Linked DNA regions of Homo sapiens: regions 1 and 3 are each linked to region 2. The links come from fine-mapping of genetic effects on plasma protein levels. A gene starts in region 2. Each other region holds a variant in brackets. All regions are shown on one strand. Distances are from middle to middle.

Evidence for each region. PIP is the chance, under the fine-mapping model, that this variant and not a neighbour inherited with it causes the effect. The UK Biobank Pharma Proteomics Project read protein levels with antibody pairs (Olink). The fine-mapping took linkage between variants from a reference panel, not from the people measured, so its PIPs are less certain.
Region 1: its variant is fine-mapped to the plasma level of the KYAT1 protein (UK Biobank, PIP above 0.99). The variant lies in the coding sequence of KYAT1. If it changes the protein, the assay may bind it differently, which can mimic a change of level.
Region 3: its variant is fine-mapped to the plasma level of the KYAT1 protein (UK Biobank, PIP above 0.99).

What each region holds. Positions count from the first base shown.
Region 1 is chr9:128,833,382-128,841,637 of GRCh38, forward strand. It overlaps KYAT1-SPOUT1 (KYAT1-SPOUT1 readthrough), which reads right to left. Exons shown (of 25, transcript NR_182311.1): 4 at 4,837-4,986; 5 at 4,670-4,756; 6 at 4,304-4,432; 7 at 3,421-3,541; 8 at 2,616-2,692; 9 at 2,398-2,487; 10 at 2,100-2,286; 11 at 1,942-2,021; 12 at 359-445; 13 at 1-262. It overlaps KYAT1 (kynurenine aminotransferase 1), which reads right to left. Exons shown (of 13, transcript NM_004059.5): 4 at 4,837-4,986; 5 at 4,670-4,756; 6 at 4,304-4,432; 7 at 3,421-3,541; 8 at 2,616-2,692; 9 at 2,398-2,487; 10 at 2,100-2,286; 11 at 1,942-2,021; 12 at 359-445; 13 at 1-262. The coding sequence ends at 203. Among named protein-coding and RNA genes, the nearest start is that of SPOUT1, 7.7 kb to the left of the region's middle. RefSeq lists an enhancer at 4,951-5,451. The variant T/C (reference allele first, on the strand shown) is at 4,750.
Region 2 is chr9:128,878,345-128,886,600 of GRCh38, forward strand. It overlaps KYAT1 (kynurenine aminotransferase 1), which reads right to left and starts at 3,606. Exons shown (of 13, transcript NM_004059.5): 1 at 3,553-3,606. It overlaps KYAT1-SPOUT1 (KYAT1-SPOUT1 readthrough), which reads right to left and starts at 3,606. Exons shown (of 25, transcript NR_182311.1): 1 at 3,553-3,606. It overlaps LRRC8A (leucine rich repeat containing 8 VRAC subunit A), which reads left to right and starts at 3,789. Exons shown (of 4, transcript NM_019594.4): 1 at 3,789-3,906; 2 at 7,671-7,777. RefSeq lists enhancers at 3,676-3,825, 7,102-7,864 and a silencer at 3,856-4,135.
Region 3 is chr9:128,312,502-128,320,501 of GRCh38, forward strand. It overlaps TRUB2 (TruB pseudouridine synthase family member 2), which reads right to left. Exons shown (of 8, transcript NM_015679.3): 3 at 4,651-4,725; 4 at 3,066-3,127; 5 at 1,307-1,388. LOC105376286 (a long non-coding RNA gene) reads left to right here and starts at 1,050. Exons shown (of 3, transcript XR_930377.3): 1 at 1,050-1,404; 2 at 1,597-1,746; 3 at 2,923-4,398. The variant G/C (reference allele first, on the strand shown) is at 1,149.

The sequences.
Region 1 (8,256 bases), 45 kb before region 2:
CTCACCTTTCAGACAGGAGGCACTTGGTTCTCTAAGATGAAGAAGGGCGGCTCCCACCCAGAACATTCTGTGTCACGGAGAAGAGGTTTCCCAATAGCATCTTCCCCAACCTAGAAATGTCTGAAACCTGGACAAAGACAGACACTCAAAGAGGATCTCTGCGGGCATGTGGGGATGTCAGGGCCAAGGCGTGACTTCAGGGCTAGAGTTCCACCTTCCACTTCCGCAGCTTCTCGTCCATGGCCTGGAGCGTGGCTTCATCCTGCGCCAGCACAGATTAGTCCTACACTCTCCCCATGTGCCCAGCCGGCCTTGGGAAGCTCTGTGAGGTCTTTCCTCCCCCAGCCCTGCCCTTTACCTTCACAAAACAGAAGCGGATATAGTGGTCAAAGTGCTTCTGATGTGGCACACTATAGAAGATGGAGACAGGGATGGCCACCAAGCCCTGGGGAGGAGGAAGGACATGTCTCAACACGGCCTCGTGGCCCAGCAGGCCTTGGCTCCGGAGGGGACAGAGAGGTTCCCACGACCAGGCGGGGAAGGAGAGTTAGCTCCAATCCAGCACCTAGAGCTGCATCAAAGTCAGAGGAACAAGGCCAGGTGCGGTGGCTCACGCCTATAATCCCAGCACTTTGGGAGGCTGAGACGGGTGGATCACCTGAGGTCAGGAGTTCAAGACCAGCCTGGCCAACATGGCTAAACCCCGTCTCTACCAAAAATACAAAAATTGGCCGGGTGTGGTGGCGCATGCCTGTAATCCCAGCTACTTGGGAGGCTGAGGCAGGAGAATTGCTTGAACCCGGGGGTGGAGGTTGCAGTGAGCCAGATTGCGCCACTTCACCGCAGCCTGGGCGAAAGAGAGAAAATCCATCCAAAACAAAAACAAACACAAAGTCAGAAGAAAAGAATCCCAGAACATCATTCCAAGTCCCTCCCTGGGTATAGAGGGCAGAGGGAGGCTGACAGAGGGAGGATCATGGAGCAGGTCAGGGCAGAGCCAGAGAAGAACAAAGCCTTAGAGTCACAGATCAAACCTGGATGAACTCAAGAGTTAATGGGCCAACTCCTCACTGTACAGATGGGAAGATGGAGATCCAAAGAGGCAGGAAATCCTGCCAGCCCACACAGCATCTCTGTGCAAGTTAGAAACAGGTTCCTCAGGCCAGGCACGGTGGCTCACGCCTGTAATCCCAGCACTTTGGGAGGCCAAGGGGAGTGGATCATCTGAGGTCAGGAGTTGGAGACTAGCCTGACCAACATGGTGAAACCCCGTCTCTACTAAAAATACAAAAATTAGCCAGGCGTGGTTGTACATGCCTGTAATCCCAGTTACCCAACTACTCAGGAGGCTAAGGGAGGAGAATCGCTTGAACCCTGGAGGTGGAGGTTGCAGTGTGCTGAGATTGCGCCACTGCACTCCCACCTAGGCGACAGAGTGAGACTCTGTCTCAAAAAAAAAAAAAAAAAAAAAAAGGCCAGGAGCAGTGGCTCACGCCTGTAATCCCAGCACTTTGGGAGGCCGAGGCAGGTGGATTACAAGGTCAGGAGATCAAGACCAACCTGGCTAACATGGTGAAACCCCGTCTCTACCAAAAATACAAAAAAAATTAGCCGGGCAAAAAAAAGTAGCCTGTGGTCCCAGCTACTCGGGAGGCTGAGGCAGGAGAATGGCGTGAACCTGGGGGGCAGAGCTTGCAGTGAGCCAAGATCGCGCCACTGCACTCCAGCCTGGGCAAGAGTGAGACTCCATCTCAACCAAAAAAAAAAAAGAAAGAAAAAAAGAAACAGCCTCCTCATTCTCTGAAGTGGATACAACCCTGCCCCAAGGTTGACGGCAGAGGCTGGACTAAGATCTAGCCCAGGAGCCTCTTGCCTGGGCACCCTTGAGCAGCACACAACCTGTGAAACCATACATGGCTGCCTGGCAGAGGCCCAGCCCACCTTGTTCTTGATCATCCACTTGACGAAGCGTCTGTCATAGGGCTCATCCACAGCTCCAGGCAAGTCAGGCATCTTCCTCTCTGGGAGACAGAGGCCACACTGAGCCCCCTGCAGCCTCCAGCCCCTGCGCCCTGCCCAGACCGGCAAGTCTCACTCACTGAAGTCTGAGATGTCTGTGATGAGGAAGTAGCTGCCCTGAGGGATGATGGGCTTCAGGCCCACTGACTGTAGGCTACGTATCATGTGGTCACGGCAGCGCTGCATGGCCTGCGGGAACTGCACAAAGTAGCTGCTGGGTTGGCGGAAGAGCAGCTGCTCCCGTTCAAAGCTCTCGGCTACTGCAGCCTGGGCAGGGCAGATGGACACACAGATAGATCAGCTGTTCCCTGACGCGGGGGCCAGCCTGGGCTCTTTTGTTGTCCCCCCACTCCCCCGTGACGTCCTGCCCCTCTTCACCTGGCTCTGCGTGGGGCAGTGGAAGACGGAGTTCTGGTGCACGGTCCGCAGGTGCTTCATGATGTGATCTGGACCCAGGACCCAGCCCACCTGCAGCAGGGGCGCAGGTAGGGGGAGAGGTCCTTCCAGACCTGGCTAAAGCCTTCTTCATTCTCAGGCCCACCTCACTTGCCAAGGATCTTGCAGGGGGTGGTGACCTCCCACCCTCAGCAACTCACCTTCCAGCCAGTGGCGCTGAAGGTCTTGCCGGCGCTGCCGATGGTCAGGGTCCGTTCCCACATGCCAGGGAGGCTGGCTGCCCAAGGCCGAACAGAACAGCTGCTGAGACTGGGGTGAGGGGGACGGGGGAGGATGGTGGTCTGGGCCCCAGGGGACACGCATAGGCTTTTGACACCCTGGATTCCTCTACATACTAAGTTATTTGCACAATTTTTTTTCTTTCTTTCTTCCTTTCCTTTCCTTCCTTCCTTCTTTCTCTCTCTCTCTCTCTCCCTCCCTCCCTCCACCCCCCATTTCTTTCTTTGTTTTTTTTTTTTTTGAGATGGAGTCTCGCTCTGTTGCCCAGGCAGGAATGCAATGGCGCCATCTTGCCTCACTGCAACCTCCGCCTCCCAGGTTCCAGTGATCCTCCTACCTCAGCTTCCTGAGTAGCTGGGACTACAGGCACGTGCCACCATGCCCAGCTAATTTTTGTACTTTTAGTACAGACAGGGTTTCACCATGTTGGCCAGGCTGGTCTCAAACTCCTGACCTCAAGTGATCTGCCAGCCTCAGCCTCCCAAAGTGCTGGGATTACAGGTGTGACCCACCATGCTCGGCATAGGATTTCTTTGACCTCATCCTTTCGACAACCAGGGAGGCAGGTGCTACTGTGACACTGTGTACTCTGGGAGGCAAAGGTCACAGGATCTGCAGGGCTCCATAACCCTGGGTTCTAACTACCAGGCCTGCGCTGACTCTCAGGTGGGGTCAAGGCCCTCCCACCAATGTGCAGGGGAGGGGCCCCAGGCTGGCTTGGCTCACCAATGCTGATGTGCTGGTGCCCGTCGTAGACCATCCACTGGTAGACTTCATCAGTGATACACACCACGTCATGCTGCTGGCAAAGGCTGGCCACCAGCTCCAGCTCTTCCCTGGAGAACACCTGCAGATGCCCAAGGAGAGCACAGACCTGCAGCTGGGACCGTCCCCAAACACAGAGGCCTACTCAGAGAGGTTAAAGAACACAGCTGCGGCCAGGTGCGGTGGCTCACGCCTGTAATCCTAGCACTTTGGGAGGCCGAGGCGGGCGGAACACTGGAGGTCAGGAGTTTAAGACCAGCCTGGCCAACATGGAGAAACCCCGTCTCTACTAAAAACACAAAAATTAGCTGGGCATGGTGGCGGGTGCCTGTAATCCCAGCTACTCGGGAGGCTGAGGCAGGAGAATTGCTTGAACCCAGGAGGCAGAGGTTGCAATGAGCCAAGATCACACCACTGCACTCCAGCCTGGGAGACAGAGCGAGACTCCGTCTCAAAAAAATAAATAAATGGCGAATACAGCCAAGCCCAGTGCTAAGGGCTGTTCTGCACCATCACATTGGATCCCTGCAACACTGACCATGAGGTCAGTTCCCTCAGGTTCCCACATTACAGATGAGATACTTCGAGAGGCATAGTCACTATTCCAGGGTCACTGGGAAGTGATGGTGGCTCCCAGCCCAGTTCACTGTCCCAGCCCTCAGGCCTTCCCTGGGGATTCTTGCCCCTGTCCTGGGACCTCTGGAGTCTTGGTCCTCAGTGCTCATTGTGTGTGGCCCTCCCACACACAAACGAAGAAACGGAGGCCCCACAGCAGCAACTCAGTAACAGTGCAGGAGACATGACCAGGTCCGCAGGGGGCCAGGGAAGGAGGTCCCTCCAGTACCTTGCCCAGGGGGTTGTTGGGGGTGTTGAGGACCAGGGCTTTGGTGCGTGATGTGAATTTGCCGGCCAGCTCCATGGGGTCCAGCTGCCAGTTGCTGCTGGAACCCAGTTCTCCATTCTGGATGGGACCCTGCAAGAGCAGGTGGCATGGGGTGGTACCACTTAACCACCTGACATGCAGGTCTTCCCCAGCATCTATCCCCACCTTCTCTCCCCTGGGATCCCAACACACACACCTCCCCTCTGCCCTCCCAGCTTAGAGGAACTGGCTTCCTTCACTTCTTTCCTCCTTTTCCAACTCCCAGGGTCCAACTCAGCCCACGCCTTGGATCCCTCTGCCCATCCATCCTCTACCTAGCATCCTTACCGGCTTCAGGGACACAAACACAGGACGACCCCCTGCCATCATTGTCATGGGCTCGTAGCAGTCAAAAAAGGGTTCGATGA[T/C]GATGACCTGATATAAGGGTCAAATCAGCTGGAGTCAGCATGGCCCTGACCTCTCAGTCCCACTCAGCCCAAGTCTTGCCCACTCACCTCGTCTCCTTCGTCCACCAGGGCCTGGAAGGCTGTGAACAGGGCCCCATAGCCACCAACAGTCACCAGCACATTCCTGAGCGGGTCTATCTCCTGACCCAGCAGCTCCCCAAAGAAACTTGCCAGGATCTTCGTCAGTGGTGGGTAACCCTGCCAGGACAGCAGGGGTTAACTGTCCAGCTCAGCCTGGGCCCATCCTCCGGCCCAGCTGTATCCAGGCAATTCTAGCACCTTCCAGCAGCAGGCCTGGGGGCAAAGTCAGGTACTGGTAGCCTGGGCCCCAGGGGACGTGGAATAGATCAGCTTTCAACACTCTGGATTCCTCTACACACCAAGCTATTTGTGGGATTTCTTTGATCTCATCCTCTCAACAACCCAGAGGCAGGTGCTATTGTGATCCTGTGTACTCTGGGAGGTAAAGGTCACACAATCTATATGGTCCCAGACTCCAGGGTGCCAACCACCAGGCCTGCACTGACTCAGATATCCAGTGCTAAGCTCTTCCATCTCCTCCACCAGCATTTGCCACAGGGCCTGTTCTGTGCCAGGCCCGAAGCCCAGGGCGGGGATTTAGCAGAGAACCAGAGGAAGTGCTTGCCTCCATGAACCTCAGTCCAAGAGCCCACAAGGCAGTAGAAACTCCCCACTTTCCACATCTGTAAGTTTAAGAAGCATGTTTGTGCCCACTTGATCCTCCCAGCAGCTTTGCGGGAGAGGCTTTTATTTATTTATTTATTTATTTATTTATTTATTTATTTATTTTGAGACAGGGTCTCACTCATGTCACCCAGGCTGGAGTGCAGTGGCACAATCGCGGCTCCCTGCAACCTCCGCCTCCTGGGTTCAAGTGATTCTCCTGCCTCAGCCTCCCAAGTAGCTGGGACTACAGGCACGCACCACCATGCCTGGTTAATTTTTGTATTTTTAGTGGAGACGGGGTTTCACCATGTTGGCCAGACTGGTTTCGAACTTCTGACCTTGGGTAATCTGCCTGCTTTGGCCTCCCAAAGTGCTGGGATTACAGATGTGAGCCACCGTGCCTGGCCTGATGCCCACTATTTGACAGGTAGAAAAATAGAGACCCAGAGAGAAGAAATTACTTGTCTAAAGTCACACACAGTTGACAGTCAGGAACCTCATGTTGCAGCTTTGTAAGCACCCCTTTTTGAGAGGAAGATTAGATCCAGAAACTTGTTTGCTGAGGACACTTATAAAATACTCAAGGTGAAACCCCGTCTCTACTAAAAATACAAAAAATTAGCTGGCATGGTGGCGGGCACCTGTAGTCCCAGCTCTACTCGGGAGGCTGAGGCAGAAGAATGGCGTGAACCCGGGAGGCGGAGCTTGCAGTGAGCCGAGATCGCGCCACTGCACTCCAGCCTGGGCGACAGAGCGAGACTCCGTCTCAAAAAAAACAAAAACAAACAAAACAAAACAAAAATACTCAAGGCTAAGCCAAGTGATTGAAACTTTATCTAGAACTCAACTCAGTAACTCACTAAACCAGATTTGGCCACACAAATATAAAAATTTTCTGTACAACAAGAGGCACAGGCCAGGCACCGTGGCTCACGCCTGTAATCCTAGCATTTGGGAGTATGAGGCGGGAGGGTTGCTTGAGGCCAGGAGTTTGAGAACAGCCTGGGCAACACAGAGGGACTCTGTCTCTACTGATGGAAAATCAAAAAAATTATCCAGGTGTAGTATCACGTGCCTGTAGTCCCAGGTACTCGGGAGGCTGAGGCAGGAGGATTGCTTGAGCCCAGGAGATCAAGGCTGAAGTGAGTTATGATCACACCAGTCTGGGTAATAAAACTGAGACTCTGTCTTAGACAATAAATTAATTAATTAAATAAAAATAAAAGGCACCATGAGCAAGGTCAAAACAGGAAGAGAAAAATATTGCAACATACAAGAAAGAGGTAAAATATTTAATGAGGCTGGGCACAGTGGCTCATGCCTGTAACCCAGCACTTTGGGAGGCTAAGGTGGGAGGATTGCTTGAGCCCAGGAGTTTGAGACCAGCCTGGGTAACATAAGGAGACCCTGTCTCTATTTTGTTGTTGTTGTTGTTGTTGTCACCCAGGCTGGAGTGCAATGGCACCACCTCGGCCCACTGCAACCTCCGCCTCCCGGGTTCAAGCGATTCTTGTGCCTCAGCCTCCCAAGTAGTTGGGATTACAGGCACCCACCACCACGCCCAGCTAATTTTTATTAGAGATGGGATCTCACCATGTTGGGCAGGCTGGTCTTGAACTCCTGACCTCAGGTGATCTGCCAGCCTTAGCCTCCCAGAATGCTGGGATTATAGGCGTGAGCCACCATACCCAGCTTTTGTCTCTAGTTAAAAGAAAAAAAAAAGAAAGAAAGAAAGAAAAGAAAAAGATACATACCCAAATGATTTTTTTTTTTTTTGGATCAAAGAAGGAACTTTCCAACCAGCTCTGAGACCAGCCTATTGGCAGGGATGTAAATGAGTAAACCTTACTGGAGGGCAATTATTTACTTAGTTGTTTGTTTATTTTTCAGACAGGATCTCACTATGTTGCACTGGCCTCAAACTCCTGGGCTCAAACAATCTTCCTGCCTCAGACTCCCAAGTAGCTGGGATTATAGGCACACACTGTTTCTTAACAATATCCACCTATTGTATTTATAAATATTTATAGTCTTTCTTTTGCTAGTTTTACCTCCAGGAATTTATCTTAGAGAAATACATATGTATACAAAGATGTCCACACAGGGATATTTGCTGTGGCATTGCTTATGATATTGAGATAGCAGAAGCAGTCCATCAGTGCAGAACTGCTTAAATAAATTATGGCACATCCAGGCAACAGAACAGTATGCAGCCATTAAAAAGAACGAGTGCGGTCGGGTGCGGTGGCTCACGCCTGTAATCCCAGCACTCTGGGAGGCTGAGGTGGGTGGATCACGAGGTCAAGAGATCGAGACCAACCGGACTAACATGGTGAAACCCAGTATCCACTAAAAATACAAAAAATGGCCAGGTGCGGTGGCTCACGCCTGTAATCCCAGCACTTTGGGAGGCCGAGGCAGGCGAATCACGAGGTCGGGAGTTTGAGACCAGCCTGGCCAACATGGTGAAACCCCGTCTCTACTAAAAATACAAAAATTAGCTGGGCATGGTGGCGGGCGCCTGTAATCCCAACTACTCAAGAGGCTGAGGCAGGAGAATGGCTTGAACCCAGGAGGCGGAGGCGGAGGCGGAGGCGGAGGTTGCAGTGAGCCGAGATCGTGCCGCTGCACTCCAGACTCCAGCCGGGGCGACAGTGCGAGACTGTCTTAAAAAAAAAACAAAACAAAAATTAGCTGGGCGTGGGGGCGCACCCCTATAGTCCCAGCTACTCGGGAGGCTGAGGCAGGAGAATCTCTTGAACCTGGGAGGGGGAGGTTGCA
Region 2 (8,256 bases):
GGTTGGTCTCGAACTCCTGAGCTCAAGCGATAGTCCCACCTCAGCCTTCCAAATTACTGGGATTATAGGCATGAACCACCACACCCAGTCAACAAGCTATTAACATTTAAACCTACCAGGCTTTCCATAAAATTAGTAACCAAGCAAAATGAAAAATCTCTTATTATATAATGAATCCAAATTTTTTTTGATAGAAAAAAAACAGAATTCCCTGAAGACAAATGTTTGGTGACAATTTGTTGAGCCAATGTTTTCCTGGAGAGAACAGCCTGTCTGAGGAGATCTAACAATTGCGTCACTCAGACACAGTCCCCCTGGGCTTAGGAATTGGCAGAGGAGAGAGAAATGACTTCTGGAGTCCAGACGGCAGGTTTACAGGCTGGAGGGGTTGGTGGAAGACCTGAGTGACACAAACAGTAGGTATCTCACCACTTATTCCTCCTGGCACAGGACCCAGATTCAAAAACCACAATCTCACTCCCATACATTAAAGGAACACACAACAGATAGGCAGATAGCCTCGCGGGAGCCTTGGAGGAGGTGGCATCAGCTTTACAGGTGGGGAAACTGAGGCTTAGAGAGGGGAAATGACTTACTCGAAGTCCCAGAAAAGCACCAGGAGGCCCCCAGCTGCAAGCTGGGGAATGAGGGCATAGGATGAGCATTTTAAAAATTATGCCGGGAGGCCGGGCGCGGTGGCTCACGCCTGTAATCCCAGCACTTTGGGAGGCCGAGGTGGGCGGATCACAAGGTCAGGAGATAGAGACCATCCTGGCTAACACGGTGAAACCCCGTCTCTACTAAAAATACAAAAAATTAGCCAGGCGTGGTGGCGGGTGCCTGTAGTCCCAGCTACTTGGGAGGCTGAGGCAGGAGAATGGAGTGAACCCGGGAGGTGGAGCTTGCAGTGAGCCGAGATTGCACCACTGCACTCCAGCCTGGGCGACAGAGTGAGACTCCGTCTCAAAAAAAAAAAAAGGAATTATGCAGGGAACTGGCAGTGCCATCCAGGAGTGGGATGTGGCCCCAGGTCTGTTCTGGCAGGAGTTACAGTGACTGCCTCATGGCTGTGAAGGCTCCTGCATTCCTTTATCGCCCCCACCTGGATTATAAAATCAGGCGCCCTACTCTTTGGAGCTTGGAGAGGTTAGTGTGGCGTTCTGGTGGTTGGCACCTAATGGAGGCATTCTCCGGGAGGAAAGATTCCTGCTGAAGCCAGACTGAATGGGTCTAACTTGTATATTCTCCAATCCTGTTGGTCACCCTCAGTTTCTTAGTGGACACCAAGGCCAAGTCCAGGGTAGGAGCCCATCTCTCCTTGAGTCTCCAGCCTCATCATTTCTCCTTCTGGACATCCTAGTTTCCAGTCACATTGAAAGTCCCTTCCTTGGAGAAGCCCCTTCTGACTCCACCCAGGCTAAGCCACATGTCCCCTCCCAGGTGGTCCCAAGACCTGGGCTTCCGCCCTCAAAGTACTCAGCACGGGGGCGCTCAACTCCAAGGACAGGAACTATGTGCTTGACCTGTTCTCCACCAGATCCTCAGCCTCTGGCAGCTCACCCAGCACAGAGTAGGTCCCCCAGGCATTAGCACAGATGATCCTGGGAAGCTAAGGGAGAGGCCTGGGAGCCCAGCAGCCTTCCTAGGGAGGGAGGGAGACCTGTAGGAACCCCCTTCTGGCAACTTTCTTAATCTCTCTGTGCCTCACTTATCTGTAAAATGAGACTTATCTGCGTGTAAAATACAAAGTATAATACGTGGGAACATTCACTGTCTACAACTGTGGTTCTGGTTGTTCATTTTACAGGCGGGGACATGGAGGCCCACGGAGTACCTGGCAGGCCCACAGTCCACAGGTTGGAAAGAGGTGCCCAAGCCCTGGACTTTAAGCCTGGGCTCTGACCTTCAACGTTTGCTTTTCACACCACACATCATGTCAATAAATAGTTACTGGATGCCTGTTGTGTGCCAGGCCCCAAGACGGGTGTTGCGTGACTGACAACAGAAAAAGCATCTCAGTGGCGAGGGATAAGCTAGATCATGGGCATTAGTGTAAATCTCCCAGGGTTCAAATTCCAGCTTCTCCACTTCCTGGCTATGATTTTTTTTTTTTTTTAGACGGAGTCTTGCTCTGTTGCCCAGGCTGAAGTGCAGTGGCCCAATCTCAGCTCACTGCAAGCTCTGCCTCCCAGGTTCATGCCATTCTCCTGCCTCAGCCTCCCGAGTAGCTGGGACCACAGGCGCTCGCCACCACACCCGGCTAATTTTTTTGTATTTTTAGTAGAGACGGGGTTTCACCGTGTTAGCCAGGATGGTCTCGATCTACTGACCTCGTGATCCGCCCGCCTCAGCCTCCCAAAGTGCTGGGATTACAGGTGTGAACCACCGCGCCCGGCCCTGGCTATGATATTGCTAAGTTTCCTAACCTCTCTAAGGTTCTTTTCTCTTCTATTAAAAGGGAAAAATAAGACCTCCCAACAGAAGTGAAACTAGGCATTGGCTTAACACGTGATGGATGGGAGCCACGACTATCTTCATCATCTTATTTTTAATTATCTATCTGTGCACATGGTAGTAAATTTCTCGCCCTGGCCCAGGTACCCAAGACCCCAATTCTGTCGGAGACAACCGCAATTAACAACTTCTTGTGCATCTTATCAGACAGCTGGCGCGCACACCCGCAGATACGCCCACCCTCAGGCGTCCTTCTACGCAAAGATGGATAGCACCCATCAACGCTGTTTTTTCTTTTTTTAGACGGAGTCTCGCTCTGTCGCCCAGGCTGGAGTGCAGCGGCGCGATCTCGGCTCACTGCAAGCTCCACCTCCCGAGTTCATGCCATTCTCCTGCCTCAGCCTCCAGAGTAGCTGGGACTACAGGCGCCCACCACCACGCCCGGCTGATTTTTTTGTATTTTTAGTAGAGATGAGGTTTCACCAAGTTAGCCAGGATGGTCTCGATCTCCTGACCTCGTGATCCGCCCGCCTCGGCCTCCCAAAGTGCTGGGATTACAGACGTGAGCCACCGCAACCGGCCCAACGCTGTTTTTACTGTTGTTTCCTTTTTTAACCTAAGGTATCTTAGAAGTCACCCTACATTAGTGCATATTAAACATTGTTCGTCTTAATGGCTGCACAGTATTCCACTGTATGGATTATTTTTTAATTTGGTTGCCGGTACTGTTATCAGCCAGGGAATTTGCGAGGACCCAGCGGGATTTATGGAGCTGCAGAGTTGGAGTCTGGGGACCCAATTCCAACCCCAGATCTGTCCAGAATTCTGTTGTCTCGGGTATCATCTCCACCGGCGCGGTCGTGGGAGGGGGATTTGGGTGCAGACAGGACCAGCCCCAGTGTCCGAGCGAGAATCAGCGAGCAGCACGCGCAGTTGATTCCCGCGGGCGGCTCAATCATTCTGTGCAGCCACTCCGTTATACTTAGTAGCATCAAACTCATTAAGCACTCTAGCACAACCAAGCTCGGAACCGTTAGCCGACCCTCCCAGCCTCGGCACCTGACCTTGGGGAAGTGGCGCTCCGACACAGCTACTCACCCTCACCTGGGCCGCTTCACCCCTCGTTCCCAAGTACACCCCGTAGGTTGCAGCAGTCCCTGTCCCTTTAAGGGGGCCGAGCCCGGCTCCGCTACTTCCGCCCCGAAGCAGCAGGGCGCTAGCGCGGAGGCGAGAGCGGGAGAAAGCGCCGCTAGAATTCTCCTCATAAAGATGGCGACGCCCTGGCCGCCGCGTTCGCGCCCGGCGGTGACGTCACTTCCGGGGCGGAGGAGGCTGAGTGGTGCAGTGAGGGACAAACAAAAGGAGGCGCCGGAGCAGCGCTGCGGCCGGCGGCGGGACGGAGCGGCCGGGGCCTGGGGCTGCCTGCCGGGCGGCCGGGCGCGGCGAGCCCAGGTGAGTGGACGGGGTGGGGAAAGGGGCGCGAGCTGTCACCTCTCGAAACCCACTTACACACGCCCTCGGCCAGCTGCCCGGCCCGGGGCGCCCGGGGCATCTGGGGCTCTGTCTCCGGGCCGGCCCCCTGGGGACCTCCCGCGGTGTTCGGCCTACCTCTGGGCTCCCCAGTGCCCGGAGTCTCCGGGGCACCACCTTCTCGCCGGCTCCGCGGCGCGCGAGCCCCCTCCCAGGCACCCCTGTGCCTCCTTGTGCTTCAGAAACCAGGAGTTTCCGCCTCGGCTCCCCCATGTCCCCTTGTCATCCCCTGGGTCCCCCCAGATCCTCACCCCTCCACACACACTCTCCCGTTCCTAGAGGTTCCACCTCTGGGCTCTCTCCTTGCCATTTCTTTTTCAAAGATTTCCTTAGCTGTCTTCTCCTGAGTTCCTGGTCCCCTTCTCTTCCCTTGCACCCCTCCTTCCTATCGTTCCGATGGGGGCAGTGCCCTGACTTGGGGGCAGGATCCCCGGCTAGGCTCTTGGGGCCTTTCTGGGATGGGATATTTGGGAAGACCGGTCCGGAATCTAAGAACCCAGACCCTGTCCCAGTCCTGTGCATTCAGGTGGGCCCGAGGGCGAGGCGAGATCCAGTGAGGTCCAGGCCTGGTGCAGCCCTAGGTGAGCTGGATACCCAGCAAACTGAGCTCCCAGGCTGAAGGGGCATAGCTGGGGTCATGGAGTTCATGATGATTCTGCTGCTTTCGCTGACTGCTTCTTCCCCTTGATCTGGACCGGGGTGAACCGAGGTCTGCCGGTTCTCAGCTGTTGCGATTGTTGCCTTTTTTGGGAAGGAGGGATGGGTCGGGGGTTGTCTGGTAGCCGCCTCCTGATGGAGACTTGGCTGGAAGGGTGGGCGGTTCCTGGGTGAGCCACACTTCCACTGACTCCTCTTCCCCTGCCCTACCTCAGGAAGCCTTTTGAGAATGAGGTGTGGAGGGAGAGCACCTGGTAAGAGGAAGGGAACTGGGGGAGCCCGAAGTTCCCAAGGACCTCTTCCACCTCTTCTGTTAGTAGTACTCTTAACCCCTGCCAAACTGTATTCTGCCCTTTGGAGCAGACAACCTGGCAGACAGACAGGCTGTAAGAAGCGGGAGGAGATCGGCTGTTGCTGATACTTCCTGTGGAGGGGATGTGGGAGTGGGAGTTTGTTCAGAGAGACTGGGCAGTGCTGATTGCTCAGTCTCACTGGTGTTGCTTCCATGAAGGTCAAGTCTTCCTCTGGCTCATGAAGTGAGGCAAGGACAGATGACCTGTGCTGGAGGAGGCTGTTGTGGACATGCCAGGGATGAGTGACTGGGTGGCTGGTCTCTGCTTCCTTGTTTTCCTGGTCTCAGGGCTTTGGCATGGGGTCTGATGCCCTCTGCGTTCTAGGGACCATAGGGTACAGAGCAGGGGGTGCAGGGCCGGGCGTGGTGGCTCACGCCTGTAATCCCAGCACGTTGGGAGGCTGAAGCGGGCAGATCACGAGGTCAGGAGTTCGAGACCAGCCTGGCCAACATAGTGAAACCTTGTCTCTACTAAAAATACAAAAAATTAGCCAGGCATGGGGCTGCGCACCCGTAATCCCAGCTATTCGGGAGGCTGAGGCAGGAGAATTGCTTGAACCCAGCAGGCAGAGGTTGCAGTGAGCCAAGATCGCGCCATTGCACTCCAGCTTGGGCAAGAAGAGCAAAATTCCATCTCAAAAAAACAAAAAAAAAAACAGAGCGGGGGCACAGGAAATGTTCATGACTTCCCCCCAGAACTTGACTAGATGTGGTGGTTCTCCATCCCTTAGGCACACCCACCAGGAAGCCGTTTCCTTTGCAAACTCTTGAATGACCTTTCTGGACTGTAGGGAATCCTGGGGATCACTGCCGTGGGTCAGAACTCAGGGAAGTGGCCGGACCCTGGGTTGCTGCCTGGCTTGGCCTGGACCTTGCCTGTAGGAGTTGGAGGGAAATCAGCCTGGTTCCTGACTGCCTCGTCTTAGAGTAGAGCTGATTCCAGGTTTTCACATGGAGAAACTGAGGCACACACTGATGGGCCAAGACCTCTTGGAGATTCAGGTGGGATGGATGTGGGGCTCTTAGAGCCCAGCACAGTGTCTCTCCATGCCTTGACTCATTCATTCATTCATTCATTCATTCAGCCATTCTTTAGAAAGTGCCTGTCTTGGGCCTGGGATGGCTGGGAAAACATCCCTGGCCTCCTGAGAGCTGCAGTCTGGGAGGACAGGCAAACCAGAAGACACATAAGTTCTGATATACTGTGGCCACCATATTAATAGAAATATTACAGAGGCAGCCCAGAGGAAGAAGGAATTAGCTCTGGGTGGTTATGTAGGGGGTGGTCAGGGTATGCTTTCTGGAAGAGGAGGGACTAGAATAATTAGTGACAGGGAGTCCAGGGGCCCAAGTTCTGGACCTGGCTCTGCCATGGGCAGGTGATTGGACCACCCAGCCTCAGTGGGTGCCCCATCCTTGACAAGGAGGGTAGAGTGAGGTAGAGGTTGGCTTGGATGGCCTCCGTGCCTATATAGCTGTAGGTACTTTACTGCCTAGTCACCACCACCCCGTATGGAATTGCAGGGTTATTGACCTACCTCCCATGACGGCGGAGACCATCTTCCATGTCTGCCCTCCCAGCACAGGGCCTGGAACTTAGTCAATATAGTAAATACCCAGTGGTAGAAATGATGGAAAAACAGCCATCCCTCCTAGATCAGTCCAGGTGTCTTTGTCTACCCCCGCCCTCCTCCTTCCTGGGTAACTCCTGCTGATCCTTTGGCTCTCTCTGGTGGCTGGGCCACTCTCCCAGCTCCTGGCTCCCCGAAACCCGTGTCGTAGTGATCACAGCTTTCCCTACCCTGCCACTCCCATGCACAGTTCTGCACAGTGTCTGGCGCATATGGAGTAGATGCTCACCAGAGGCTGGTTGACTGTCGGAGATGATGGGTGGATTTGGTGTTTAAGTTGGAGTCTGGGCACTGGCTGGTCTCTGCCTGACCCAGCCACCCCACTGTGGCTCATCTCTTGCCACTTCCCCTCTCTGGCTCTGGATCTCGCCATGCCGAGCCCGCAAGCCTTCTCCAGATGCCATGTACTCTCTCCTCCAGGTAAACATGTGCTGTTCCTCCTGCCTGGAATGCTCTTTTTCCAGCTCCTACTCTTAGGAGTCAACTCAGACAACTCCTCCTCCAGAAAGCCTTCCCTGACCCCACTAGTCTGGGTCTAGTGCTTCTCCTGGCTCCCCCGCAGCAGAGCTCTGAGCTCTCAGACCGTCGCTACTGACTTGGCACCTCCTCAGTAGACCAGGTTCTGGAGGGAGGTGCTCTGTCAGAACCTCTTTTGTCTGCCAGGCGCGGTGGCTCATGCCTGTAATCCCAATACTTTGGGAGGCCGAGGCGGGCAGATCCCTGGAGGTTAGGAGTTTGAGAGCAGCCTGGCTAACATGGGGAAACGCTGTCTCTACTAAAAATACAAAAAATTAGCCAGGCTTGGTGGTGCGCACCTGAAATCCCATCTACTCGAGAGGCTGAGGCAGGAGAATCACTTGAATGCGGGAGGCGGAGGTTGCAGTGAACCGAGATTGCACCACTATACAAAAAAAACCTCTTTTGTCACCCCAGAGCCCAGCCAAGGGCCTGCTACCAAGCAGGCTCTCAGGAAGTGCTGGCGGTGTGGCAGGTAACTGCGACAGTCACACATGTGCCTGCTGACGGCAGCTCTCGCTTCCTTGTAGGGAGGCAGCGTCCATGGAGCAAAAGGAATGCCAGGATCCTGCACAGGCAGACGCGGGCCAGCCTCAGCACCGACAGCCGACGCGCAGATAGCAGAGCCATCCTTGGGGTAAGGACTGGGCCCCTCTCCTTCTCAGCCAGCTCCAGCTCCAGTCAAGTGCCCTTCCCAGCCTGGGGAGCAAAGGGTAGCATCTCCATCCCCACAGTCCTTTGCTTTTCTTGCTGTAGGTCCAGGGTAGAGTGGCAGACAGCAGAATTACTCTCTTCCTCCTTCTCCCGCTGAGTAATGTGTGCTTGCCGCACTCATTGAATGCTGAGTTGTTTCATTGCAAACCTCTGTTTTTTCTCCTTCACCCCAGATCTTATCAGTCTGGGTCTTGCTAATGCAGCCTCATGACCACATTTCCCAAAAAGCGTGGACCACGTTTCCCAAGTGTGTTCCATGAGACACCAGTTTCTTCGGTCACAGTGGTTTGATAATTCCAGGAAACAAAGACTTCTTGTTATCCTTGCTGCAGGACTTATCAGAGTCTTGAATCAGAGCCGTCATCAGGATTGAGCTGATCACGATAAGGGAGCTAGCGACTC
Region 3 (8,000 bases), 570 kb before region 2:
CAAACTGCAAACTTCACCTCCTAGGTTCAAACGATTCTCCTGCCTCAGCCTCCCGAGTACCTGGGATTATAGGCGTGCACTACCATGCCCGGCTAATTTTTTGTATTATTATTATTTTTTTTTTTTTTTTTTGAGACGGAGTCTCGCTTTGTTGCCAGGCTGGAGTGCAGTGGTGCAATCTCAGCTCACTGCAACCTCCGCCTCCCAGGTTCAAGCGATTCTCCTGCCTCAGCCTCCTGAGTAGCTGGGACTACAGGTGCCTGCCACCACGCCCGGCTAATTTTTGTATTTTTACTAGAGACGGGTTTTACCATATCAGCCAGGCTGGTCTCAAACTCCTGACCTTGTGATCCACCCATCTCGACCTCCCAAAGTGCTGGGATTACAGGCGTGAGCCACTGCGCCCGGCCTCTTTTTAAAATTTAGAACAGTAGCCAGGCGTGGTGACTCACACCTGTAATCCCAGCACTTTGGGAGGCCGAGGTGGGCAGAATACCTGAGGTCAGGAGTTCCAGACCAGACTGGCCAACAGGGTGAAACCCAATTTCTACTAAAAATACAAAACATTAGCTGGGTGTGGTGGTGTGCACCTGTAATCTCAGCTACTCCGAAGGCTGAGGCAGGAGAATTGCTTGAACCTGGGAGGTGGAGGTTGCAGTAAGCCAAGATCGCGCCACTGCACTCCAGCCTGGGCGACAGAGCGAGACATCGTTTCAAAAAAAAAAAAAGAAAAGAAAAGGAAAGGCTGGGCGCGGTGGCTCATGCCTGTAATCCCAGCACTTTGGGAGGCCAAGGAGGGCGGATCATGAGGTCAGGAGATCCAGACCATCTTGGCTAACATGGTGAAACCCCGTCTCCCATCTCTACTAAAAATACAAAAAAAAAAAAGCCGGGCGTGGTGGCGGGCGCCTGTAGTCCCAGCTACTAGGGAGGCTGAGGCAGGAGAATGGCGTGAACCCGGGAGGTGGTGCTTGCAGCGAGCTGAGATCGTGCCACTGCACTCCAGCCTGGGCGACAGAGCGAGACTCCGTCTCAAAAAAAAAAAAAAAAAAAGAAAAGAAAAGGAAAAGGTCAAAGACTGACGAGATGGAGAGAAACTAGAGTCTTTGGAAGTGACGTTACATTTGAGCTAGGCAAGCAGGGGAGTA[G/C]AGGATGCTCCTGGAGCACAGATCCCGTGGCCAAAGCCTCAGCCCAAGCCTAGTGTGTGCAGTGGAACTGAGAAGGGGCCAGCGTGGCCTAGGGCGGGGAGAGGACTCAGGGAAAGCAAATGCGGAGGGAGGCAGCGGCAGCCACTTCCGGTTCTCACCATAGGTTGTCTTCTCTACCAGCCTCCCGTCCTCACGGAAGTCATCTGTAGCTTTGCCCAGGAGGCCACGCACTGTGTAATCCTTCAAGGACAGGGAGGTAAAGATCCGTCAGTGACCCCATTCTAAGCCCTAGTAGCCCCTGCCCCAGAAGCTGGGGGTGGGGGGTCCTCAGGTCTCCCTCAGGAAGCTCATGTGCCCAGCCCCTGCCCAGCTGCTCCACAGCCCCAGGAGGAAGGGCACCAGCTCTGTCATGTGGCCTTCAGCAGCTCTTGCTCTCTTTGTATTCAAGCTCTCCTGTCACCTGGGGACAGTAACAGGGCCAGTCTCACAGTACTGCTGCCTGGATTCAGCAGGACATGGTACCTGGCTCCCAGTCAGCAGGCTTCCTACAAGACTGCTGGCTGGTTTCCATGACAACCAGCACTGGCAGCCTCCAAAGGTACTGACCGCTGACAGCCACCCTGTGGCCACCCCAGGCCTCCATGTTTCTCCTCTCCAACCTAACTCGGCAATTTATCACCCCGAGCCCCTTCTAGCATGCCCTGTAGGCTTCTCTCCACGCCTCTAAATAGAATGAGATTCCATGGCCCAGATCAGGCCCTTGCTCATCCCTGCTTGTAAAAACTCCCCCTCCTCTGAATCTGTGCAGCTAACCCCATCTGCCACAGATAAGTAATGATTGGCTGGATACAGTGACTCACACGTATAATCCCAGCACTTTGGGAGACAGAGGCGGGTGGATCGTCGAGTAGCTGGGAGGACAGGCATGCGCCACCAGCCTGGCTAATTTTTTTGTATTTTTAGTAGAGACAGGTTTTCACCATGTTGTCCAGGCTGGTCTTGAACTCCTGGCCTCAAGTGACCCACCCACCTCAGCCTCCCAAAGTGGCAGGAGCCACTGAGCCCGGCCACAATTTTTAAAATTTTTATAATTTAAAAAAATTTTGTAAATAGAGATGGAGTCTTGCTATGTTGCCCAGACTGGTCTCAAATTCCTGGGCTCAAGCAATCCTCCTGCCTCAGCCTCCCAAAGTACTGGGATTACAGGTATGAGTCACCACACCTGGCCCTCATTCCCATTTTACAGATGAGGAAACTGAGGCACACAGATATTAATTAGGTAATCTACCCAAGGACACACAGCTGTCAGAGTGGTAGAAGCTGGGGTTCAAACTGAAGCCATTTGGCTCCAGAATTTGTGCCCTTAACCACTAAAAACATGGGCCCCATAACGTGGCACCTGCGTACATACTTTGTGGTATCAGACTCCATAGCCCCGACCCCACCTCTGGATGGTAAGCTCCCTGTGGGTAGGATGCTGACATCTACCTCTCAGTCTTGGGACAGAATAGGGAATGGCATCATGATCAAGCTCTGGTGTTGGAGAGACCTAGGTTCAAATCCCAGCTCTTAAAGCCCTAACAACTACATGACCTAGGTAAGTAACATCTCCTCTCTGAGCCTCAGTTCTCTCATCTGTGAAATGTGGCTAACAACAGATTCCACTTTACAGGGAGGCTGTGAGGCTTCCCTAAAGGAATCCACGTACAGTGCTCAGCACAGAGTAGTCGGCATACACTAACACTGGTAGTTATTATTGTTATTATTATTACAGCCCCTGCACAGCACACGATCATCAAAAAAATGCTTGCTTATGGCTTGGGTGTTCCCCCACGGAATCCTCTAAGCTTCAGAATCCTGCTGGTGACCCCCAGGAAAGGACCAAGGGAGAAGCAGGCTGTCCCCAGACCCTCGTACCTTGGTAAGATGAGCATTGTACATATCGGTGAGGAGCCTGCATCCATGTCCCACGCCGAGCACTGAAAAGCAGCCAGCGTCATCTCACACCTGGGACCCCCTTCCCATTCCCCTAAGTATCCCCACCCCTACCCCCACCATCAGAATACTCCCTTTTCTGATGCTGCCAAAGGCAACAAGAAGGCAAAAAGATCTTCTACAGGGGGCAGGTGCACCCCTCTGGGTATATATCACATGCAGATTGCTGGGCCTTACCCATATGCACTGAATCTGACTCATGGTTGGAGGGGGCCTAGGATCCCTGCCAAGCTCTCCACAGGATTCTGACACCTGAGAGGAAGAGATCCCTGGCCTAGTCACACAAACCTGCACTCAAATCAGGGACAGCTCTGAGTATAATCTTTAGCCTCTTTGAGCGTCAAGTTCCCCATCAGTAAAATGGGGGTAAAAATACTGTCTGAAGGCCAGGCGCAGTGGCTCATGCCTGTAATCCCAGAACTTTGGGAGGCCGAGGCAGGTGGATCACCTGAGGTCAGGAGTTTGAGACCAGCTTGGCCAACATGGTGAAACCCCATCTCTACCAAAAAATACAAAATTAACCAGGTGTGGTGCTACACTACACTCCAGCTTGGGCAACAAGAGTGAGACTCCGTCTCACAAAAAAAAAAAAAAAAAATTAGCCAGGCGTGGTGGCGGGCACCTGTAATCCCACCTACTCGGGAGGCTAAGGCAGGGAGAATTGCTTGAACCCAGGAGGCGGAGGTTCCAGTGAGCCGAGATCATGCCATTGCACTCCAGCCTGGGAGACAGAGCAAGACTCTGTCTCAGGAAAAAAAAAAAATACTGATTCCTGTGGGTGCTGTGCAGTCGGCACAGAGGAAGGGCCCAATAAACGGTGGCCACTGTGGTCACTTCCTGCCTTTCTCCCGGTCTGTTTCTCCCTCTGGCTGAGGGACAGAATAACTCTGCATTCACTCGTGGGGAGACAGAACAGGGAGAGGGGGCATGAGATCATGTCTGCCTGCCTGTGCCTCAGGAAGCAAGACAAGGGGACTGTGACTGTCGCGGCTGGAGGATGTGGGCACCACCTGACCCTGGGGACACAGATGGCTCATGACTAGGGCTTTGTGTGTCCAGACCCAGCCACATGCAGGCCCTGGCCATTAGGTCCAGAGTCACGCGCCTGGCTGCCCCATGATGCAATGATGGTTTTCCTTCTCCGGACCAGGGGTATTCACTGGCCATGGGACCCAGAACAAGTCACCTAAATCCTACTTTCTTCTTCCATAAAATCATATAGTATCTACCTAATAAAGTTGTTGTGGTAAATAAATGTGCATAAAGGGCCTCGAACTATGTCATGTGTGGGAATCACTGAATAAAGGTGGGTGACTGTGGTATTAACCTGTGATTACCTCCGTCCCACCTATCCACTCCCCAGCTGATCAGCCTTGGGGCAGGAATCAGGGCAGGAGAGGAGTGGTGGGACGTGGGTGCCAGGTAAGAAGTGGGCTGGGCTCCTGGTAGCTTCAGGATCTTTTCTCAAGCCTTATCACTGTACCCCCAGGCTTCTCACATCACCTACCAAGTACTCCAGAAGCCTGGGCATCCAACCGATGTCCCACGCCAACCTTGAGATGGGCGAATGCTGGTCCACATACTGGAAAGAAACAAACAAGGTCCATTTTCTCAACTAAATGCCACCCCAGGATGGCTTTGGGCTGCATGTTGACCTCGTTCTCAGAATGGGCCTCATGGAGCCCAAACTAGCATCAGGCCAGACTCTCAGGCTTCCCCGTCATGGAATCTGGGACCCTGAACTGTATCCTCAGTGCCCTGGGATCCAAAGGGCAGCCCAAGATGCCTCTTACTCTGCCTATCATCAGTCTCCCAGTGAGAGGCTCTAAGAAGACTGGCGTAACACTGAAGGTCAAGAGTGCGGGGTTCCCTGCCCAGCTCTACTGAGGAAGAGTCCCTGGAGGAAAATGGAGGCTGTGAGCTCCTTAAGGCAGAACCTGGGTGTGTCAACTCACTAGCTGCTCAGGAAAGAACTACTGAAAGAATAAATGCAGGAATGAGCCAGAAGTGTTTACACTTCTACAGATTAAGAGGAATCTAGGGGAAGAGTCCAGGGTAGTTAAGGGCCTATTGAATCCAGGCCATGTTACTAAATGTCAACACTGAGCCTCAGTTTTCTCCCTTGTGAAATGAAAATAGGACCCATCTCACAGCACTGTGGTGATATCAATGAGGATTGTACTTGGGGGAAGCTTAACACAATGCCTAGTACAGAGTGGCGACTCAATACATTATACTTCTTATTGTTACCATATAATAGAGTCATTGAATATCACAAGTCCAACGGGTTTTTGAGGTTTCTGGTCAAACCTCTAGATTCCCTGACACATGCCTTAATCACATCTAGTGATGGGGACACATTACCAGAACCAGTTCCATTGTTGGGCAACTTTATTCAGTAAAAAAATCACTCTTTCGGCTGGGCGCAGTGGCTCACACCTGTAATCCCAGCACTTTGGGAGGCCAAGGTGGGCGGATCACCTGAGGTCAGGAGTTCGAGACCAGCCTGGCCAACATGGTGAAACCCCATCTCTACTAAAAATACAAAAATTAGCTGGGTGTGGTGGCACACACCTGTAATCCCAGCTACTTGGGAGGCTGAGGCAAGAGAATAGCTTGAACCTGGGAGATGGAGGTTGCAGTGAGCTGAGATCACACCACTGCACTCCAGACTCCAGCCTGGGCAACAGAGCAAGACTCTGTCAAATAAATAAATAAATAAACTTATTCTTTCCCAGAAACCCAAAACCCCTACCTTAGGACTTCTACCTAGGGTCTCATTTCTCACCTGGAGTCCCAGAATAGAAAAAGGGTCAGCAAACTACAGTCCACAAGTCAAACCTGAAGACTGAAGACTGTTTTTTTTTTGTGTGTGTGTGTTTGCTTGTTTTGTTTTGTTTTGTTTTGAGATGGAGTCTCACTTTGTCACCCAGGCTGGAGTGCAGTGGCGCCATCTCAACTCACTGCAACCTCCACCTCCCAGATTCAAGCGATTCTCATGCCTCAGCCTCCTGAGTAGCTAGGATTACAGGCACCTGCCTCCATACCTAGCTAATTTTTTGTATTTTTAGTAGAGACGGAGTTTCATCATGTTGGCCAGGCTGGTCTTGAACTCTTGACCTCAAGTGATCCGCCTGCCTCGGCCTCCCAAAGTGCTGGGATTACATGAATGAGCCACCGCATCTGGCTTGTTTTTTGTGGCCTATGAGTTAAGAATGGTTTTTGCATTTTTCAGTGGTTCAAAATAAATCAAGAGACCAGTTGCAAGGGCTCACGCTTATAATCCCAGCACTTTGAGACGCCGAGGCAGGCAGATCACTTGAGCCCAGGAGTTCAATACTAGCATGGGCAACGTGACAAAACCCCATCTCTACAAAAAATACAAAAATTAGCCAGGCATGGCCGGGCGTGGTGGCTCACACCTGTAATCCCAGCACTTTGGGAGGCCGAGGCGGGTGGATCACGAGGTCAGGAGATCGAGACTATCCTGCCTAACATGGTGAAACCCCGTCTCTACTAAAAATACAAAAAATTAGCTGGGCGTGGTGGCGGGCGCCTGTAGTCCCAGCTACTCGGGAGGCTGAGGCAGGAGAATGGCGTGAACCCAGGAGGAGAAGCTTGCAGTGAGCCGAGATCGTGCCACTGCACTCCAGCCTGGGCAACAGAGCATGACTCCGTCTCAAAAAAAAAAAAAAAATTAGCCAGGCATAGTGGCCTGTGCCTGTAGTCCCAGCTACTCGGGAGGCTTAGGTGAGAAGACTGCTTGAACTCAGGAGGCAGAGGTTTCAGTGAGCCGAGATCTCACCACTGCCCTCCAGCCTGGGTGACAGAGTGAGACCCTGTCTCTAAATAAATAGAATACTACAGTTGTCCCTTGGTATCCAAGGGGATTGGGTCCAGGATCCCTTGCAGATACCAAAATTTGTAGATGTTCAAGTCCCTGATATAAAATGGCATAGTATTTGCATATAACCTAGGCATGTCGTCCCATATACCTTTTTTTTTTTTTTTTGAGGCAGAGTCTCACTCTTTCACCCAGGCTGGAGTGCAGTGGCACGATCATGGCTCACCACAACCTCTGCCTCCCAGGTTCGTGCGACTCCTCGTAACTCAGCCTCCTGAGTAGCTGGGATTACAGGTACGTGCTATCATGCCCAGCTAATTTTTACTAGAGACGGGGCTTTGCCATGTCTTGAACTCCTGACCTCAAGTGATCCGCCCACCTTGGCCTCCCAAAGTGCAGCGATTACAGGCGTGAGCCACCACACCTGGCCACTTTTTTTTTTTTTGAGACTGAGTCTCGCTGTGTCGCCCAGGCTGGAGTGCAGTGGCACGATCTCCGCTCACTGCAAGCTCCGCCTCCTGGGTTCACGCCATTCTCCTGCCTCAGCCTCTGGAGTAGCTGGGACTACAGGCGCCCACCACCACGCCCGGCTAATTTCTTTGTATTTTTAGTAGAGACAGGGTATCACCGTATTAGCCAGGATGGTCTCGATTTCCTGACCTCGTGATCCGCCCACCTCAGCCTCTTTATTTTTTTTGGAGACAGAGTCTCACTCTGTCACCCAGGCTGGAGTGCACTGGCACAGTCTCGGCTCACTGCAGCCTCTGAACTCCTGGGCTCAAGTGATTCTCCCACCTCAACCTCCCGAGTAGCTGGAACTACAGGCATATGCCACCCCACCTGGCTAATTTTTTTTTTTTTTTGAGACAGTTTCACTCTTATTGTCCAGGCTAGAGTGCAATGGCACAACCTAAGCTCACCGCAACCTCCGACTCCCGGGTTCAAGCAATTCTCCTGCCTCAGCCTCCTGAGAACCTGGGATTATAGGCATGTGCCACCACACCTGTCTAATT